2 separate regions of the Homo sapiens genome follow, and region 1 is linked to region 2. Evidence: fine-mapped expression QTL. A gene starts in region 2. The other region holds a variant in brackets. All regions are shown on one strand. Distances are from middle to middle. Region 1 overlaps TLL2 (tolloid like 2). Region 2 holds the start of TCTN3 (tectonic family member 3).

The links.
Region 1: its variant is fine-mapped to the expression of TCTN3 in prefrontal cortex (GTEx, PIP 0.97).

What each region holds. Positions count from the first base shown.
Region 1 is chr10:96,414,500-96,419,878 of GRCh38, reverse strand. All of the region lies in intron 7 of TLL2 (tolloid like 2), which reads left to right. Among named protein-coding and RNA genes, the nearest start is that of OPALIN, 58 kb to the right of the region's middle. The variant A/C (reference allele first, on the strand shown) is at 2,391.
Region 2 is chr10:95,690,689-95,696,067 of GRCh38, reverse strand. It overlaps TCTN3 (tectonic family member 3), which reads left to right and starts at 2,141. Exons shown (of 14, transcript NM_015631.6): 1 at 2,141-2,424; 2 at 2,592-2,715; 3 at 3,030-3,148. The coding sequence starts at 2,169. It also overlaps a transcript of ENTPD1 not described here. RefSeq lists enhancers at 1,181-1,682, 2,157-2,436.

The DNA.
Region 1 (5,379 bases), 720 kb before region 2:
CCATGAGTCTCCATGTCCATAAAGATGAAAGGAATTCATTTGCTCAGAAAACATATGGCTCTTGGGAGTGAAAGGGACACTGTTTGCCAGGGGCTCCTTGGTTCTTGGGTAAGGCTGCCAAAAGCATCCTGTTGATGAGTTTGTTGATAGGACTATGGGAGAAATCCTCTAAATCTCAGCATCCCAAGTTCTCAGGGGGTACTGCTCCTCTGGCCACACAGCTGCTTAAGTCATGATCTCTATCCTGCACCTAGACATGAGCTATCATGGGTGGAGTTGTGTTAAAGCTGGCATCTTCGACAGCACTTGGGAGTAGCGTGAAATTGAGCCTTCCTGGCCTCTTTGACCTTCTCCTGGCTCTTTTCCAAAGATAGTAAAAGAAACATGGTGTGATGAAGAGACCACTGAACTGAGAGGCAGAAGCCGGGTTCTAGTCATAGTTCTCCTGTGACCCCTTGCCTTTGAGGGAGGCAGACAGTAATTAGGGGCAGCTGTGTGATGGTTAAATCTCCACCTCCACAGGCCTTGGTTTCCTTGTGAGAGGGTTGGACTAGATGTTCTCTGAGCCCCTTCCAGCTCTAACCTTTCAAGTTGCAATTTCTCAATCCGATGCAGATGGGTGAGGGGTTGACAGATTATGATCTCATTCACTGCCATACAGGAAATCTGAAGCTGGAAGGGCCTCCTCTTCCAGATTAGGAAACTGAGACATTGAGGGATCCACCCTGAGGCTGTGTGCAGGGAATCTCAGGACGCCAGTGCAGTGTGCAAATATCCAAGGGGGAGGCAATGCTTGGGTCTTGGGGTGGGCTGATTCACCTGTTTGGGAAATGGTGCAGGGAATAGCCAAAGGCCCACCCCATCATCCAGGAGTTACAGGCTGCTACTAGAGACCAAGTATCAATTTTGTCAGGGAATCTATGTCAAGTTGGCCCAAGGGAGAAGCTTTTTCCTTGGGTCTTGTTTCTGTAGCTGCCATAACTCTTCATATTGCTTTTTAATTTATCTATTAATAATTATTAATTTATATATTCATATTAATTTATATATTCAATTTATATATTCATATAATTTATATATTCAAATGAAATCAATATTCATTTAATTTAGCTATTAATAATTATTATTTTATAAATTCATATATTAATTTATATATTTATATATACATATATATTCATATATATATTCATATACATTCATATGTATCTGTTGTATTCCCTTCTCTGGCAGTAGACTGAGATCCTTGAGGACAGAGACTATCTCATTCTCTTCTAGTCCCCAGCACCCAACATAGTGCCTGGCACCTAGTAGGTATTCAATAGACATTTGCTAAATGAATAAATTAATGAATGAGTTCAAAGGGGCCAGGAGGACCTGCAATGTTGGGGAATAGGTGAGGGTAGAAATTTCCATTATGCTCATTACAGTTCTTTCCATGTGCTCACCAATGCGATGGCTACTTTAGTAAGGTGAATCTGTAAGTCTGTACCATGTAGGGCATTTGTGTGCTGTAGGGACTGCACTGCCTTCTCACCGCCTGCTCCGTGCCAGGCACTGCACAAGCTCTGGAGCCAGAGGCCAGGACAGGATGCAGGCAGAGGATCTTCCAGCACCAGCGTTTCTTCTTGTCTTTCTTTTTGAAATATATATATGTATTTTTTTTTCTAGGATTGCTAGCTCATAATACCATGCCTTTTGTCCCTCAGGGGATAACCATTTCTAATGCTATTGTCAATGTGAACCATCAGCCCAGACCAGTGGAAATCCATGGGCCAAACCCATGAAATAAAAATTCCTCATCAAAATTCCCCAGAATCTCTAGGAGGGAGATCAGCAGGGGCAGCACACAGGAGGATGGGCAGCTAGGAGCAGAGCAGCTCGCCGAGGGCAGGCAGCCCCTCCTGCTAGTGTTACATTAGCTACTGCTGCAGAGCAATTGACCCCCAAGCTTAGTGACTTAAAACAGCAGCTTATTATTTTTGATGATACTGTGGGTTAGTTAGTCAGGCTTGTTCTTCTCTGGTCTTTCCTGGGATCACTCACAGCAACAGTCATCTGACAGATTGATTGGGCTGGGGAGTCCAGAATGACCAGTCACACGCCTGGCACTTGGTGCTGCCTGTTCATGCCCCTCTGTTCTCTCTGGGAGCCCCTTGGTTCTCCTTCATGTGGCGTCTCATCCTCCAGTAGGCTAGACCAGGCTTTACACTGCATGGGGACTCACAGTTCCAAGAGAGCAAGCGGGGAAGCTGCAAGCCTCTTAAGGCCCCAGCTCTGGAACTTGCATGACATCACTTCTGCCACATTCTGTTGGTCAAAGCAAGCCACAAGGCCAGCCCCAAACTCAAGCAAGTGGAGAAATAGACTCCACCTCTTACTGGGAGGTATGG[A/C]AGCTTCACATTGCAGTAGGATTTGGCTATTAGGAGGAGTGACTTTTTATTTTAACAATCTGCCACTGCTGCCTTGTCACCTCTGCCCCAGAGTTCAGAATGGTTTCAGCAAATCTGTTTTGTTGCAGGTGGATGACTGCATTGTCCTTTCTGCCAACTTTTTACCTGGATTTTCGGAAAACAATTTTGTTCACTGGGTTTTTACTGGGAGCTTTTCTATGAGCATTTTGTCAATAGTTTCCCCGCTCCCAACTCCATGTCATTACTTCTGGTCACAAAGACCCTAAAGCTGGCCTGTACCTCATGTTGGATTCTGTAAAAGGGCAGAATAGAGCCCATGGAACATATGCTGATCTGGGGAGGTGGGCAAATGCTATACCCTGCTGATGGGAAACTCAATCCTTGTGTCTCTTTACGATTGAGCTGTCTCCTTCCAACTTCATTCTCTCTAGTTTATTGCAGTTCTTCTCCCCTCCCCCTTGGTTGGACCCAGGCTGTGGGGAGCGGTCTCTTTGGAGGTTTTGCTGGGCAAAGATCCAGGAGATGAGGAGACAGTTCTCTTGTACAGGGGCCTCTTTGTTTCAGAACTCAGAACTGACAGTTTTATTCCCTGAGGCATCTGCTGAACTCTGTCTTAGTTTAGCAGAATGTCAATGCTAAGAGTTGTCCTACATGAAAGAGGGAAGGAACGTCACCGCTGTGGTTTACACAGGGGACGGCTCTTGTAGTAAACAGCTGGAAGCTCTTGCTGGCAGCTTAGGATACGCAAGGGAGGACGTCCAGCACCAAAGAGCGGTCTGAGTGTGAGCCAATGTTGTTCCTGATGTTTTGGTTTTTGAAGTCTGCAATGTTCTTAGCTCTATAATTTAATGTATCATAAGGCCTACTGTTCCTTGGGCAGCAGGAAACACTGGCTGGAAGGAGGAGGATTCCCAGAGGTGAGCTCCTGGCCTGCCTCTCCATGACTACCTCTGTGCCCTGGGAAAGTCACTTAAGCTCTGCAGGCTCAGTCTTCTCCCCTGTAGAGTGAGAGCTCTTGTGATAATGGCACCTGACTCCTAGGGTGTTATGAAGATGAAATGAGTTGGTGCAAGGAAAGTGCCCAGTGCAGGGCCTGGCACATCGGAAAGTCCTATGAATGATGAGTAAGTGCAAGAACATGGCCTCTATGCCCCAGGCCCGCTGGCAAAGTCATCTACGTGATGTGGCCAGGTAGCGTGGGGTGCTTATAGACTGTGTGATCCTTATGCTTGTGCTGCAGAATTCCTTTCTGCAAGGGAACCAAGAAAATAATTACAAAAGGACACACCTTTCGTTAGGGCAGAAGTGCCTGTTTTTGGAGTAGCTAATGATTGAATTTAGGATTTTCTGCAGAGTCATCACTTGTGGTTTAAAATGTGGTAAAGTCAGTGAGGGAGGCCAAGGATTCCACTAAAGTTTCTCTGCAGGAGTCCAGACTCAAAAATGAGGCTATGGGAGCTAGAGAAAGACAGGTCAAGGGTTACATGTTGGGTACAGAGATGCTGAACAGGAAATCAGCAGATGATCTATACTCCCACAGGCTAAGGTTGGAAAGTGAGCTTGAAATCTGATTTAGAAAAAAAAAGTCTGCACAAAAACAAAAAGATAACAAAGTGATGTAACCAGGAAGAACCAGGGGTAATAGGTATTTTCTAATGTAGTGCAGAATTTAGGGAAATAGAAACAGTGCTTGAGAGAGACAGAGAGAGAGAGAGAGAGAGAGAGAGACAGAGAGAGACAGAGAGAGAGAGCATGCACAGCTAATAGCTAGGTGACATATGTACATTTTCACTTCCATTTTGGATGTAAATAACTATTTTGCAAAGTTTTTAAAAGACAGTGCTTTATCCTGATTGCATATTTAATTCAAGAAGCATTTTTTGAGGTCTGCTGTGCTGTAGTTTCTAAGGACAGAGATAAAACACCCAGTCTCCCTGCTTGAGGAACTTACTTTTAGCAAAGAAGACAAATACCATCACTCCTTAAGAAAAACAATACAGTATGATAAGAAGAGACTACACAAATGATTAAGACCCAGAGCAGGGAATGATAAACTCCAGATGGGAGGAGTAGAAAAGGCTTGGGGAAGACTTTTAATAGAGAAAGACATCTGATGGGGTTTTGGAGAATGAATAGGAGTTTGCAAACAGACAAAAAAACAGAGGGCATGGGCAGCCTAGGGAGCGGATAGCATGTGCAAGGGCATATTTGAGGCCTACAAGGAGCTCAGTGTTGCTTAAAATAATGACATATGCTTTATTCTTGTTAAGTATTCTTTTGGTTATGGGATTAAAGAGTCAGGCTGGAGAGGAAGGCAGAAGTCAGTGAGCAAACAGCCTAGAGATCCAAGTGGTGACTGGAAGTTGGTGAAGCGTTCTAAGCAAAAAAGGCACGTGCCTCCCCTTGCATTCTGGGATGATTCCATTGCAGCATTGTGGCCAAGGGGAGCAGTAGAGTAGAAGTGGCTGAGTCTACAGGGAGGGAGGCCAGTTAAGAAGCTACTGGAAAGAGTTCAAGAATGGGGTGTTGATCACTTGAGCTATGGCAATGGTCTGGGAACAAGGAGGAGGGTATGGGTTCAAGGGGTGCAAAAAAGGTAGAGTGGACAGGACCTGGCTCCTGGTTTGGTAGGAGAGTATGAGGGAGAGGGAGGAGCTGAGAATGCCCTCAGATTCAGGCTCAGGAGACAAGGATCATGGAGTGAGCAGGAGAAGGATGGAATTGTGATAAATTTGGTTTTGAGCACGTTGGATATAAGAGGCCCATAGGACAGCCCAGGGGAGGTGTTACGAGGCATCTGGGGCTCAGCAGAGGATCCTGGGCTGGAAACAGAGGATTAGCTGTGAGGCTGCAGATGATGGTTAAAAGCCGTAGGAGCAGATGGAATATGGAGAGAGAGGACAGAGGGAGAGGGCAGAAACCCAAGGGGCATCACTGAAGGGGAAGCAGAAGTGGTTCTTGTCTCACT
Region 2 (5,379 bases):
ATAAATTCAGAAATAATTTAACACTATTTGAGAGTTGCCATTTAAATTCCAAACTTTGAAATCTAAAATAGTCTCTGATCAGATGTACAATGGAAATTTTATAGAAAGATCATTACATGGTAAATTGGTTGCAAAAAGAAGAAATTTTATAGAAAGAAATACAATCCTGAAATAAAATAAACTAAAAATATTCCTAAGGATTAATTCTAAAGAGTTCAACAAAACAATTTTTAATATATTTTTAAAATATTTAATGCACATCTAACATGTCCCAGACACTGTTCTAGGCATGGGGATATTTCAATGAACAAAACAGACAAAACTCACTATTTTTGGAATTTACATTCTAGTATATACATATGATCATATAATCTGAATAATATGAACTTGGCCTTTTCCTATAGAAATTACTAATAAGGTAAATAAATGTTTTAAGACCAAACACATATCTCCCATAGCTGTCTATCACACAACAACATAAAAACATATTTGAAAATATTTATAACACAGAGAGACTTTTAGCTACTGACTTCAAAACATTAGAAAATAAAGATCTTGTAAGAGAATTCAAGTAAAGTCAAATGTCCTAAAACTTACCTGAGTTAAATGATTCACTTGTAAAGGGAGGTGTTGACCAGATTTTAGGTAAGTGTACTAGATTTTAGATAACTCTTAACAGATGTTAATTTATATACTAAAACTAAATATCCAAAATAATCCAGATGTCAGAACCGTGGACATAGGAAAATACTGGGTCTAGGAGGAGCAATATTTTGATCATCTACAGTCCCACTGTACAATATGGTAGCTACTCACGTCTGTGGTTAACTTTGAATTAATTACAATTTAAAAATTAAAAATTCAGGCCAGGCACAGCGACTCACAGCTGTAATCCCAGCACTTTAGGAGGCCAAGGCGGGAGGGTCACTTGAGGTCAGGAATTCGAGACCAGCCTGGACAACATGGTGAAACCCCATCTCTACTAAAAATAAAAATAAAATTAGCCGGGCGTGGTGGCGCGTGCCTGTCATCCCAGCTACTCAGGAGGCTGAAACAGAAGAATCACCTGAATCCTAGAGGCAGAGGTTGCAGTGAGCTGAGATCACACCACTGCACTCCAGCCTGAGCGACAGAGCGAAACACCGTCTCAAAAAAAAAAAAAAAAAAAAAAATCAGCTCCTCAGTCACGCTAGCCACATTTCAAGCGCACAATTGCCACATAAGGCCGGTGACTACCATGCTGGACAGTGCAGCTACGGTACATTTCCAATACCGAAGGAAAGTCCCATGGCCCGCGCTGCTGTGGGGAATCGGAAGAGGCACGCCATTCCCGGGAAGAACAAAAACCTCCTAGAGAGGCTTAAAAAATTTGCCATTAACACGGGGAAAAAAATCTTCTATTTCCATTCCTCCATCTTATTTTCTCACCTCCTAGACAATGTTTCTTTTTTTTATTCTTTCTCTCCCTATTTTCTCACATTTTTCCTGCCCTTTTTTCTTATTTTTCTCTCACTGCTTTTTCTAACAACAAACATGCAGTCCATCTTTAATGATTTGATGCATTTCTTTAGGGTTTTCAAAATTTCTCAATGTTAAAATGTAAGGAGCTGAATGAACATTATTTCTAATGTGTTTTTTTTTTTTTTAAAAAAGCCATATTTAGAGGAGACTGTTTTTTAAGGTATGTGACCTTAGGTGTGTTTCCCCCACCTGAGAACATTATTCTTCCATAGAAAGGGTTTCTCACCGTTGGAATCCGGGGTGAAAAAAAATTTGCAATTCTAGTTCCGGCCTCTGGGGTTTCCTTGCACCGGAGGCCGGGCTCAGTCCTCTGGGCCGCGAAGTGGGCGCGGAACCTCTCGGTCCGCCGAACTCCTACCGCCACCTAGCGGAAGGAAGGCGCAAGGGCTTCTTCGTCACTGACGGTTGCCAGGCAACGGAGGCACGGCCCGGCCCGCGTTAAGGAGGAGGGCGCAGACCGAAGGACACTGAAAGAGCTGTAACAACCCCACTTTCGATTGGTTGAAGAGCTCTCAGCCTTCTCATGAGCCAATGAGAAGAGGCACGCGGATGGCGTCAGACGCTATGCGACTCCTCCCACCCACGCTCTGGCAATGCGATTGGAGACCGCGGAGGCCTACGTCGGACCCGGAGGCCCTGAATGCCCCATGCGCACCCCACAGCTCGCGCTCCTGCAAGTGTTCTTTCTGGTGTTCCCCGATGGCGTCCGGCCTCAGCCCTCTTCCTCCCCATCAGGGGCAGTGCCCACGTCTTTGGAGCTGCAGCGAGGGACGGATGGCGGAACCCTCCAGTCCCCTTCAGAGGCGACTGCAACTCGCCCGGCCGTGCCTGGACTCCCTACAGTGGTCCCTACTCTCGTGACTCCCTCGGCCCCTGGGAATAGGACTGTGGACCTCTTCCCAGGTGAGGGAAAACGTTGTGGGGGTGGAAACTTACTTCTGAGATCTAAAATTCTGTGAGCAAAGTTGAGCTGCCACAAAGCAGGAGTGGGGCTGTCGGAAGAAGGAGGGTGAGCACCTGGGAGAGTTTGGGGATCTTCATCCCACTCACTCTGTGTCGTACTTTCATAGTCTTACCGATCTGTGTCTGTGACTTGACTCCTGGAGCCTGCGATATAAATTGCTGCTGCGACAGGGACTGCTATCTTCTCCATCCGAGGACAGTTTTCTCCTTCTGCCTTCCAGGCAGCGTAAGGTGAGCTTCGTTGCTCAGACTGAATCCTAAAGGGGTTTGGGGCCTACAACGGGTAACATTTGGATGTAAGAAGAGTTAGTCTTTGTGCCTCCCACCCGTACTTCCACTCCTAGGACATTCCCTTGGTTTTTCCTAGGAATTGCCTTTTCTGATTCTCTAGAGCAGGGCTGGCCAGTAGAATAAGACCTTCGTGTCGTCCTATAGGTGCCCAAGGAGTCCTCTTTGGCATCATCTGGCCGATATTGCTGGGACACTCTTTTTTGGACCTGCCCCGCCCCTTCTAAATATATCTTCTCCCTCCTCTTTCCTCACAGGTCTTCAAGCTGGGTTTGTGTAGACAACTCTGTTATCTTCAGGAGTAATTCCCCGTTTCCTTCAAGAGTTTTCATGGATTCTAATGGAATCAGGCAGTTTTGTGTCCATGTGAACAACTGTGAGTAGAAACATGTTGGTTGTTCTCATTTTCTAACACAGGAGTGTTATATTTTGTCTTCCCTGGCCCACATTGGAAGAAGAATTGTCTTGGGCCACACGTAAAATACACTAACGATAGCTGATGAGTTAAAAACAACAACAAAAAAAAAGCAAAAAAAATGTCAAATGTTTTAAGAAAGTTTACAAATTTGTGTTGTTGGGCTGCATTCATAAGCCGTCCTGGGCTGCATGCGGCCGGTGGGTTGCAGGTTGGACAAGCTTGGTCTAACATTTATTGAGAATTGGCTTTTATTCTGGCCTTTTTTCCATTTCTTTTTTTTAAACTTTTTTTTTTTTTGTCCTTTGAATCTCTACGCCTCTTTCTGCCTCTTCTCTCTTATTACGGAATACATTTGCATTTTTGTTTTTTTTTGAGACGGAGCCTCCACCTATCGCCAGGAGTGCAGTGCAGTGGCACGATCTCAGCTCACTGCAACCTCCACCTCCCGGATTAAAGTGATTCTCCTGCCTTAGCTTCCCGAGTAGCTGGGACTATGGGTGTGTGCCACCATGACCAGCTAATTTTTGTATTTTTAGTAGAGACGGGGTTTTGCAATGTTGGCCAGGATGGTCTTGATCTCTTGACCTCATGGGCCACCCACCTCGACCCCCAAAGTGCTGGGATTACAGGTGTGAGCCACCGCGCCTGGCCACATTTGCAACTTTTTATGTTCTGTTGGCTATGGATCAGAAAACTCATAAAGAACTTTAATTTCAATCATTTTAATCATTCCTCTTAACTCAGATAATCACAGATAGACTATATTCCCCACTTACTACAATCTCCATGAGGGTACTAACTGAATCCCCAGTGCCTAACACATAGTAAGCACCAAATAATGTTTGAATGAACATCTTTGACAAATGAGTCTATGCCAACCTTATTTTCATTTCATGAGGCAACAGTGTAGGAGGAGCATTAGATTAGGATCTCAGTCCTGCCATTTCCTTACCAGCTATACAGACTTGGGCAAATCCCTTAGCATTTCCAGGCTCGTTTCTTCAACTGTAAAGTGAGAAATAATATCATTGGCTTTGTATATGAAAGCGCTCTACAACTGTAGAGTACAATAAAGATTAGAGGTTATTATTATTGGGGATGGTTAGTGGACTTAGAAATTTGCTGGTGATGGCTATAACATTTCTAAAGATATGAAGCTAATCTATCTTTTTAAAATGTCTATGAAGCAAAATAATGTTCCTGCACAAAATGGATTTAAATGTCTCTTGCATCCTGGAAGTCACCTCATCCTGATTTCATCTGACTGTTAATAAGAATTGCAAAACTATATTTGTCTCAGAAAACAACCAGTTTTTGGTTTTGGGGGACTTGAATTTCAAAGCAGTTATCAGAAGCCTTGTGGTTATTTAGATGGTAATAGGGTAAAGGGAACAAGATGAATACTTCATTTTCAGATAAGGTTGTGGCCTGACGCGGTGGCTCACTCCTGTAATCTTAGCACTTGGGAGGCTGAGGTGGGCAGATCACTTGAGGTCAGGAGTTTGAGACCAGCCTAACCAACATGGTGAAACCCTGTCTCTACTAAAAAAACAAAAAATTATCCAGGCATGGTAGTGGGCACCTGTAATCTCAGCTAGTTGGGAGGCTGAGGCAGGAGAATCATGTGAGCCTGGGAGGCTGAGATTGCACCACTGCACTCCAACCTGGGTAACAGAACGAGAGTCTGTCTCAAAAAAAGAAAGTTGTCTCTTCTTTTCCAAACATTTTACTGCCTTTTAAATCCAGCCTTATGATCATGCTCCAGGGTTATTGCAATGGCACCTACCTGGTGCTCCCTGCTTTTGATCCCCACTCCTGCCCCCGACACCATCCTGCACACTCCTTCGGGATCAGTGGATCTGAACTTTCTTTAAACACCTGAGGGAGGAATATGGCCACTTCCAATAGTAGTTATGGTTCATTACATCAATGAACTTTTTCCTGAACGAGGGTGGGGTGTACATTCATGTTTAGTATGAAAAAGGCAAAAATTTCCCTTTGGTTCTGATTATTTACCTACCTTCCTCACATATACACACATAGCATCTACACACAGTATACACAGTTGTGGAGAATCATTTCACTAGATAAATCTTTCCATAACATTGCATTATGTTGCTTCCTTACTGAGAAACCTCCATTACTTCCCACTATCCATAAAATAACATCCAGCTTCTTAGCCAGCCTGT